3 linked regions of the Homo sapiens genome follow. The protein of the gene in region 1 interacts with the protein of each later gene in a biochemical or structural test. Each region holds a gene or a part of one and is shown in the gene's direction. Other genes may lie near its edges.

What was found. Proteins that work in one complex are often made in the same cells at the same time.
Region 2: of the proteins of ZNF451 (region 1) and PML, one has a biochemical effect on the other in vitro, tested with the Homo sapiens proteins (one study listed by BioGRID).
Region 3: the proteins of ZNF451 (region 1) and SUMO1 form a complex in vitro, tested with the Homo sapiens proteins (one study listed by BioGRID).

What each region holds. Positions count from the first base shown.
Region 1 is NC_000006.12:57,145,688-57,149,187, forward strand, and holds part of ZNF451 (E3 SUMO-protein ligase ZNF451), read left to right. Parts: intron 1-1,402; coding exon 1,403-3,006; intron 3,007-3,500. UniProt on the Homo sapiens protein: E3 SUMO-protein ligase; has a preference for SUMO2 and SUMO3 and facilitates UBE2I/UBC9-mediated sumoylation of target proteins. Plays a role in protein SUMO2 modification in response to stress caused by DNA damage and by proteasome inhibitors (in vitro).
Region 2 is NC_000015.10:74,018,716-74,022,215, forward strand, and holds part of PML (protein PML), read left to right. Parts: intron 1-3,500.
Region 3 is NC_000002.12:202,228,598-202,232,097, reverse strand, and holds part of SUMO1 (small ubiquitin-related modifier 1 isoform a precursor), read left to right. Parts: intron 1-53; exon of another isoform or gene 54-450; intron 451-3,500. UniProt on the Homo sapiens protein: Ubiquitin-like protein that can be covalently attached to proteins as a monomer or a lysine-linked polymer.

The sequences.
Region 1 (3,500 bases):
TCAATAATCCATTGATGGACACTTAGGTTGATTCCATTCATTATCGCTATTGTCAATAGTGCTGCGGTAAATGTACAAGTGTAGGTGTCTTTTTGATATAATGCTTACTTTTTCTTAAGGTAGATACCAGTAGTGGGACTGCTGGATCAAAGGGCGGTTCTATTTTTAGTTTTTTAAGAAAGCTCCATATTGTTTTCCATAGAGGTTGTACTAATTTACATTTCCATCAACAGTGTATAAGTGTTCCCTTTTCTCTGTATCCTTGCCAACATCAGTTGTTTTTTGACTTTTTAATAACAGCCATTTTGACTGGTGTAAGATGGTATCGCATTGTTTTAATTTGAAGTTCTCTGATGATTAGTAATGTTGAGTATTTATGGGCCAGTTGTATGTCTTCTTTTGAAAAATGTCTGTTCATGTCCTTTGCCCACTTCTTAATGGGATTATTTGTGGATTTTTTTCTTGTTAAGTTCCTAGTAGATTCTGAATATTAGTCCTTTGTCAGATGCATAGTTTGCAGATATTTTCTCCCATTCTGTAAGTTGTCTGTTTATTCTCTTGATTATTTCTTTTGCTATGCTTAAGCTTTTAAGTCCCATTTGTCTATTTTAGGGCTTTGTTGCATTTGCTTTTGAGGACTTAGTCATAAATTTTTTGCCTAGGCCATTGTCCGGAAGGGGTTTTCCTAGGTTTTCTTCTAGAATTTTTATAGTTTCAGGTCTTAGCCTTTAATCCATCTTGAGTTATTTTTTGTATATGATGAAAGATATGGGTTCAGTTTTATTCTTCTGCATATGGCTGTCAAGTTTTATCAGCACCATTTATTAAATAGGGTGTCCTTTCCCCAGTGTCTATTTTTGTCAATTTCATCAAAGATCAGTAGTTTGTAGGTATGTGGCTTTATTGCTGGGTTCTCTATTCTGTTCCATTGATCTGTGTGTCTGTTTTTATACCAGTACATGTTGTTTTGGTTACCATAGCCTTATAGTATCAACATTAATCAGTTATTAAAGAATAGGAACTGGGTTGTCTAGAATCTTAACCATAGTGTTCTTACATACAGTTTAATTACCATGGAGAGTCTAATAATTTGCCTGTTCAATAAGGTCCTCTGTCAGTGCTTTTGATACAGATTTTAGTTTTCTAAAATTTGCCTGAATTTAAAAAATTTTGAATCTAGTTTTAGCCTTTTGTATTTTAACTAGAAATAGATAAAGTGCAGATAATACTCAAGTATTTTGAGATGATAGAACATCATTATGTCATTTGCATCTTTATTGAAAAGTATCTTTTAGTGCTTATTTATACGTTGGTTATTTTATAATTCCTGCAATAAAATGCAGCAATGGTATATTTAGAAAATACTTCTGAAAGACTTTCTATTTCTTTTTATCTAATTTAGAGTTCATTGTCGAAATGCTGGACCTGTAGCTGTAGCTGAGAAGAGCATTACCCAGGTTGCAGAGAAATTCATATTAAGAGGTTATTGTCCAGATTGCAATCAAGTCTTTGTGGATGAAACCAGCACCCAAAATCATAAGCAGAATTCAGGACACAAAGTCCGAGTCATTAACTCAGTGGAAGAATCAGTCTTACTCTATTGCCACAGCAGCGAAGGGAACAAGGATCCTTCTTCTGACTTGCATTTATTGTTGGATCAATCAAAATTTTCATCACTTAAAAGAACCATGTCTATTAAAGAATCTAGCTCACTGGAGTGCATTGCCATTCCAAAAAAGAAGATGAATTTAAAAGATAAAAGCCATGAAGGTGTTGCTTGTGTCCAGAAAGAAAAATCAGTAGTTAAAACCTGGTTCTGTGAATGCAATCAGCGATTCCCAAGTGAAGATGCAGTAGAAAAGCATGTTTTCTCAGCAAACACAATGGGTTATAAATGTGTGGTCTGTGGAAAGGTATGTGATGATTCAGGGGTCATTCGTTTACACATGAGCCGGATTCACGGAGGGGCACATTTAAATAACTTTCTTTTCTGGTGTCGGACATGCAAAAAGGAGTTAACAAGGAAAGATACTATCATGGCACATGTGACTGAATTTCATAATGGACACAGATATTTTTATGAGATGGATGAGGTAGAAGGTGAAACTTTGCCATCATCCTCTACAACATTGGATAATTTGACTGCTAACAAGCCTTCATCAGCTATTACTGTTATTGATCATTCCCCGGCAAATAGTTCTCCGAGGGGTAAATGGCAATGCCGGATTTGTGAAGATATGTTTGATTCCCAGGAATATGTAAAACAGCACTGCATGTCTTTGGCAAGCCACAAGTTTCATAGATACAGCTGTGCTCACTGCAGAAAGCCTTTTCATAAGATAGAAACATTGTACCGACATTGCCAAGATGAGCATGACAATGAGATAAAGATTAAATACTTCTGTGGGCTTTGTGATCTTATCTTTAATGTGGAAGAAGCATTTCTGAGTCATTATGAGGAGCACCACAGCATAGATTATGTATTTGTGTCAGAAAAAACTGAAACTTCAATTAAAACCGAAGATGATTTTCCAGTAATAGAGACCAGTAACCAGTTAACTTGTGGTTGCCGTGAGAGTTACATCTGTAAAGTCAACAGAAAAGAAGATTATAGCAGATGTCTCCAAATCATGCTGGATAAAGGAAAACTGTGGTTTCGCTGCAGTTTATGTTCGGCAACAGCACAGAATTTAACCGACATGAACACTCATATCCATCAAGTGCACAAAGAAAAGAGTGATGAGGAGGAGCAGCAGTATGTAATCAAGTGTGGCACCTGCACCAAAGCATTTCATGATCCTGAGAGTGCACAGCAGCATTTCCATAGAAAACATTGCTTCTTACAGAAACCCAGTGTGGCTCATTTTGGATCTGAAAAATCAAACCTGTACAAGTTTACTGCTAGTGCCTCACATACAGAGAGAAAACTGAAACAGGCAATAAACTATTCAAAAAGTTTAGACATGGAGAAAGGAGTTGAGAATGACCTAAGCTATCAGAATATAGGTATGGCTTTATAGCTCTATGCAAATTTCATATACTGATATTGAAACTTACAATGTACCCACCTCGATTCAATTTTGAAGCAAGAAACAGGGTAACTTCTTGATGGTATGTTAATTATTATGGTATATACATTTTAGGGGTTTGTATTCCTACTACTACATTTATCCACTTTCTAAACTTACGAGGACAGAGTATATGTTGGCTTTAAATAATATATATTTTAGATATCATTTTATTTTACAAAAGGTGTGGAGATTTTGAAGATGAAGGAAGTTGATAGTTTTTCTGAAAGTTAGATTTCAAAGTTATCCTAGTATTAATATCATTTAGATTTTTCTTGTAATATTTGGGTTAACTAAAAAGATAAATCACGTGAATTCTTTTTGTTTCTATTTGGCCATATTCTTTAGTGTGAGACATTTTAAAGGTCATTTCAGCATTTGTATATTTTTGTTATGATTAACTTGGAAGAAAAGCTTTAACATACAATTAAA
Region 2 (3,500 bases), on another chromosome or scaffold:
GCTAAGATAGAATTATGCTATTTTTCTTTCTTAATTATTATGTAATCTAGCCACTTTGGTGAGCAATTTCTTATTAAGTTAGTGGTGTTTTTGCTTATTGTTTTGAGTATTCCAGAAGCAAATAGATGTTATTTCGCCTTTCTGAAGATACGGTTAAGTCTGGGTTCTTGTCACGGAGCCCTTCTGGGCAGTTTCCCACTTCACCTCTGCCTCCTCCAAAGTGCCAAGCACGCAGCAGGTACTCAGTGAGTGTCCTCTGAATGAAGGTAAAGGAACCGCTTGGCTAAGGTCATTCCTGGCCCTGGGTGGCAGCCCTTTGATTCAGGATCTGCACCTCAGTCTTACCAGAGGGCTGGGGGCTTTTAGACCCAGGTGTCTGATTCAGGCTAGCCACCTCACAGACACTTGCCGCCCATTTCCATCTAGAGGGAAAGCAGGGGCCAGTCACCCTAGGGAGACCCCATTCAGGACAAAAGAAGCTTAGAAAAAGGACCCAGCGGAGGCTATGGCCATCCAGAACGTCTTGCTCTCTATCCAGCCAGGCTGCCTGAGGCGTGCCCTTCCAGGCTTGGAACCCTGTCTCCAAGGAAGGGGATCCAACATCAGACACAGCCCCTCTCCCCAAGTGTCCAAGATCCAAAGGGGGAAAATAACAACTGTTTCTTATTCTCTTCCCTTTATTCCTATACCCTATAGAATTGCCCACATTTATTAGTATTCTGTTTTTTAATTTCAAAAAAAGGAATACATTCATACATTCACAAGGCTCAAACATAATCTAAAAAGGTATGCAGTGAATGTCTTACTCTACCCTCATTCCACCCATCCCATAGCCACTTTTATTAATTTGCATGTCCTTTTAATATTTATTTATTCAAATACAATCAACTATGAAGATATTCTTATTTTTCCCCATTCTTACACAAAAGGTAGCATCTGATACACACATTTCTGCACCTTGATTTCTAACTTAAAATATATATCATAATAATACAAATAGTTAGCATTTATTGAACACTCATTGTATGCCAGTCATTTTTCAAACTTTTATCCATATATTAACTCATTTAATCCTTCCAGTACTCCTATTATTAACCTCATTTCTCCATGGAGAATTTTCCTTATCAGTATATAAAGAGCTTCCTCAATGGCTTACAGCTACATAGTATTCCGTTGTATGGGTGGATCATAATTTATGTAACTAATTGCCTTGTGAGGGACACGTGGGTGGCTTCTAATTCTTTGCTATTGTGGACTGTGCTGCAGTGAATATATTGTATGGATATCATCTTGTTATGTGTAGAGATAGAGCTGCAGAGCAGATCCAAAGAAAGAGGATTGCTGGGTTAAATGCATTTGTAATTCTGATGGGTATTGCCAAATTGCCTTCTGTAGAGTTATTAGTTCTTTTCATAATTGCTTAGTATTTCTAATTAAACGTAGCATTGATGAGCACTATGTATCAGTCTGGCTGGCTAGTAGGCTCTCTGTTGGTGGTTCCAGAACAAGTTGATCTCAGTGTAGTCCCAGATGAGACCCTTTCTTCTGGCCTCAGGTGGGCTGACTTATTCCTTTTTTTTTTTTTTTTTTTTGAGATGGAGTCTTGCTCTGTTGGCCAGGCTGGAGTACAGTGGTGCAATTTTGGCTTACTGTAACCTCCACCTCCTGGGTTCAAGCAGTTCTCCCACCTCAGCCTCCCAAGTAGCTGGGATTACAGGCGCACACCACCAAGACTTATTCTTATCACTGCCGGTGAGAGTAAATTACAGCAATATTTCTGGGGAACTAACAGTATTTTCCCTGGTAATATTTGAAGAAGCAGCCTTGTAATGGTTAAGAACATGGACTCTAAGCTGGACTGCCTGGGTTTTTATATTTTCTTTCGCTGCTGTAACAAACTACCACAAATTTAGGGGCTTAAAACAATGTAAATGTATTCTGTTATGGTTCTGGAGGTAAGAAGTCTGAAACAGGTCTCACTGAGGTATATAAAGGTGTCAGCAGGCTTTGCTCCTTTGGGAGGCTCTCAGGGAGAACGTTTTCTTGCCTTTCCCAGCTTCTAGAGGCTGCCCACATTCCTTGGTGCATGGCCCCTTTCTGTCTTCAAAGCCGGCAACATCACAACATTCCCACCTCTGCATTCATCACATCACATCTCCTCTCATTCTCCTGCCTCCCTGCCCTTTCCTTTGAAAGGATTCACGTGATTACGTTGAACCCACCCAGATAATCTAGAATAATCTCTTTATCTCAAAGTCCTTAATTGAATAACACCTGCAAAGACCCTTTTGCCATAGTAAGGTGACATATTCACAGGTCTCAGGAATTTGCACGTGGACATCTTTAGAGGCCACTATTCTGCTACTACAGTTTGCATCTAGACTCTACCACTTACTAATCGTGTGATCTTGAACAAATTATTTTGCCTCTTGCACCAGTTTTCTCATCCTTAAAATGGGGATAATAATGGTATCTATTCCACTGGATTGTCAGGAGGATTGAATGAGTAAATATTTGCCAATGCTTATAATAGTATCTGAGACACAATAAATGCTATGGAAGTATCTGCTAGCTAAAATATATTAACCAGGCCAGGCACGGTGGCTCACACCTGTAATCCCAGCACTTTGGGAGGCTGGGGCGGGTGGATCACCTGAGGTCGGGAGTTCAAGACCAGCCTGACCAACATGGAGAAACCTCGTCTCTACTAAAAATACAAAATTAGCCGGGGTGGTGGCGCATGCTTGTAATCCCAGCTACTCGGGAGGCTGAGGCAGGAGAATTGCTTGAACCCGGGAGGCAGAGGTTGCGGTAAGCTGAGATGGTGCCATTGCACTCCAGCCTGGGCAACAAGAGCGAAACTCCATCTCAAAAAAAAAATAACCAAATAAAAATATTAAAATACAAACACTTTGATCTAGCAGGCCTATATTTATAATCTATTTCATAGGAACAAAAGCTTCCATGATTAGGCTATATAACTTGGATATTACTAAAGTGTTGTCCATATTGGCACCAAAAGAAAAAAAAAAGGAAAGGAAAACGAAAGAAAGAAAATGCACAAACAGGAAATTACCTGAATGCCAGCAAAACGACAGTGATTGAATCAATTGTGGCCCATCTGGGATATACCAGAGCTATTAAAGAGAATACATCTGATCTGTGCCTATGCACCTAGAGGAATGCTCTGAGTGAAAGTTCGTTGAGAGGAGGAAGTTCAAAGTAATTATATGACTTGATTTATTTCTTTCTTTTTTTTGAGACGGAGTTTTGCTCTTGTTGCCCAGGCTGGAGTGCAATGGCACCATCTGGGCTCACCGCAGCCTCCGCCTCCCGGGTTCAAGCAATTCTCCTGCCTCAGCCTCCTGAGTAGCTGGGATTACAGGCATGCGGCAACACACCCGGCTAATTTTGTATTTTTAGTAGAGACGGGGTTTCTCCATGTTGGTCAGGCAGGTCTTGAACTCCCGACCTCAGGTGATCCTCCCGCCCCGGCCTCC
Region 3 (3,500 bases), on another chromosome or scaffold:
TTGAATCATTTACTTCTTCCAGGACACTGGGATTGTTAAGGATGATTTTTTTTTTAAAAAATGAAAGGTCTCACATATTTATTACTGAACCTAGCCAACCAACACGTTCATAACAGATTCAGAGAAAAAAATATATTCCCAATAAAACATGTCCAACTCTCTAGATAGTGGTGACATTTTCAGCTCGATATGGTAACATGATTGTGACCTTCAGACAGCATAAGTATGTTGTATCATGCAATGCCTTATAGACCCAGCTTGGTTCTTCTCCAATGGCTCCTTTTGGAGTTTTACCTGATTTTATTACCAGTTTTCATCCGAATCCACTGGGGAATGGGTCAATTTTGCTTTTGTTTCTTGGCCAGGAATCACTTAACCCTGAAAGTCTTGTGAGAAGACATGGCGAGAAGTGGAGTCAAGCACACACCATGATGGCAGATAAAGGAAGAGAGGCCGATAATCTTTTTTTTTTGAGACGGAGTCTCGCTCTGTCACCCAGTCTGGAGTGCAGTGGTGCCATCTCGACTCGCTGCAACCTCCGCCTCCCAGGTTCAAGTGAGTCTCCCTCCTCAGCCTCCCAAGTAGCTGGGATTACAGGCACCTGCAATCATGCTCAACTAATTTTTGATCTTTGTAGAGATGGGATTTCACCATGTTGGCTAGGCTGGTCCTGAACTCTTGACCTCAGGTGATCCGCCTGCCTTGGCCTTGCAAAATGCAGGGATTACAGGCATGAGCCACGGTGCCTGGCCCAGTTAATTTTTTATTAAGACATCTTTAGCATTCCATTTTGGAATTCCCTGAAGTTGTGATTTAAAAAAGTATATATATATAATGCTGATATTCTACTTAATTAATTTAATTAATTAATTTTTTTTGAGACAGTTTCGCTCTTGTTGCCTAGGTTGGAATGCGATGGCGCCATCTTGGCTCACCACAACCTCTGCCGCCTGGGTTCAAGCGATTCTCCTGCCACAGCCTCCCGAGTAGCTGGGATTACAGGCATGTGCCACCATGCCCAGCTAATTTTTTTTTTTTTTTTGAGACAGAGTCCTAGCTGGAGCGCAATGGCGTGATCTCTGCTCACTGCAACCTCTGCCTCCTGGGTTCAAGCATTTCTCCTGCCTCAGCCTCCTGAGTAGCTGGGATTACAGGCACGCACCACCACGCCTGGCTAAGTTTTTTTATTTTTAGTAGAGACGGGGTTTCACTGCGTTAGCCAGGATGGTCTTGATCTCCTGACTTAGTGATCCGCCTGCCTCGGCCTCCCAAAGTGCTGGGATTACAGGCGTGAGCCACTGCGCCCGGCTAATTTCATTTTTTTTTTTTTTTTTTTTTTTAAGTAAAGATGGGGCTTCTCCATGTTGGTCAGGCCGGTCTCGAACTCCCGACCTCAGGTGATCTGACTGCCTTGGCCTCCCAAAGTGCTGGGATTACAGGCATGAGCCACTGCGCCATCCCGGCTGATATTCTGTTTCTTTTTAAAAGAGTCATGGGGAAAAGTTCACACAGATACTGTTATTGAGCACCTTAGTTTTACAGTTTAAAATCTGGATAATTCCTGCAACGTGACTATGTTTACTTAAAGATACGTTGTATCGGTTATATTTTTTGGCTATTTTTGCATTCAGTTGCCTTTTCTGAGCTAATGAGGATCTGAAGGAAAAGACCTGAAGGAAGGAAGGAAGGGTGGAGTTTTGTTTGCTGGGCTGGTTGTTCTCAATATCTAGGGCCAGTTATTTTTAAAGGTTTTACCAAAGAGTAATATACATACAAAAAAGTGCACAAGAGTGTTTGGTTTGCCGAACTTTCACAAACTGAACACATCCATGCAACCAGCACTCAGATGAAGAACTGCTGTATTGACTTAACAAGTAGAATAGTTTTGTCTGTTTTTATACAGCATAACATTTTATAAGTGAAATCATACAGTATGTATCTCTGTGTGTTGGTTCTTTTGCCCGGCACTGTTTAGAGGTTTGTTCATTATTATTGTATATAGTTGTATGTTATTACATCTCATTGCTGTGTGGCTTTCCATTGTGTGGAATGCAGTACACTCAATTTACTTATTCATTCTGCTTTTGATGCCCATTGAGGAATTTTCTAGCACCTGTTTTTAATATGAGCCAAACTTATACCTTTTATAGCACCTTCTATTTCAGGATTACTTTTGGGCTGAATAACAGAAAGTTTGATTTATTGTAGGTTAAACAATTTTTTTTTTCTCATAAAACAAGAAATGTAGACAAAAGTAGCTCAAGGCTGATGTGGTAGCTCCACAGTTCCTTCATATTATTTTCTTCTCCATCCTTAACAGCAGTCTTTCACTCTGGTGCTTGTCTACTTGTGGGCACAAAAAAGCTACTTTGTGTTCCAGACAGGAGAAAAGGGAAAAAGTATGTTCACTTTATATCTCTTTGGCCAAAATGGGTATAAAAGAAGCTGGGAAATACGTTTTTTATCTGGGTAAATTTAGGTTTCCCTTTGTAAGGAAGAAAGGGAAAATAGATACCAGATAGGTAATTAACAATGTCTGTCATACTTCCAAGTCTGTTTGCTAGTACTTTTGGATGCAATCAAACTGGTTTGTTCTAGGCTTAGCATAGGTCTAGACTCAAAGGGTAAGGTTTACACAACCAGTAAAATTTTTAGTTATAGTTTTGAGTTCCTGAGAAGCTATCTGTGCATGACTAGTGTTTAACTACCATTCAGGGTTGAATGTAAATATTCAGAGGCCCATTGTGTTGACAGCTTTGACCTAAACCTTGAAGTTATACAGTTAAATCTGGTCAGTTCTGTTCTAAATCTCTAGTACCGTCTTACTAAGTTTGAACATATGCATCATGAAGATGAAAATATACATATATTTTTGTGTTTTTAGAATCGTGGGCCCAGTGCAGTGGCTTACTCCTGTAATCCCAGCACTTGGGAGGCCGAGGCAGGCGGATTGCCTGAGCACCAGAGTTCGAGACCAGCCTGGGCAACATGGTGAAACCCTGTCTCTATGAAAAAATACAAAATTTAGCTGGGTGTGGTGGTGTGCGCCTGTAGTCCCAGCCACTGAGGAGGCGGAGTTTGCAGTGAGCCGAGATCGTGCCACTGCACTCCAGCCTGGGTGACACAGCGAGACTCAAAATAAATAAATAAATAAAATGGAATTGTGGTAAATTATTTAAGTATAAGGGAAGTGACTTCACTGTAATTCTCGGTTTTTCCCTTTTAATGGTGCATTAGAATTATCCTGTTTAACCCTTTTTGAGCTTTCTTCATTAGGAAATAAAATAAATTGATATATATAGAATTTGAAGCTTGGAGTGACTTTTTTTTTTTTTTTCCGAGACAGTCTTGCTCTGTTGCCCAGGCTGGAATGCATTGGCGTGATCTCGGCTCACTGCAAGCTCCACCTCCTGGGTTCACGCCATTCTCCTGCCTTAGCCTCCCAAGTAGCTGGGACTACAGGCGCCCACCACCACGCCCAGCTAATTTTTTGTATTTTT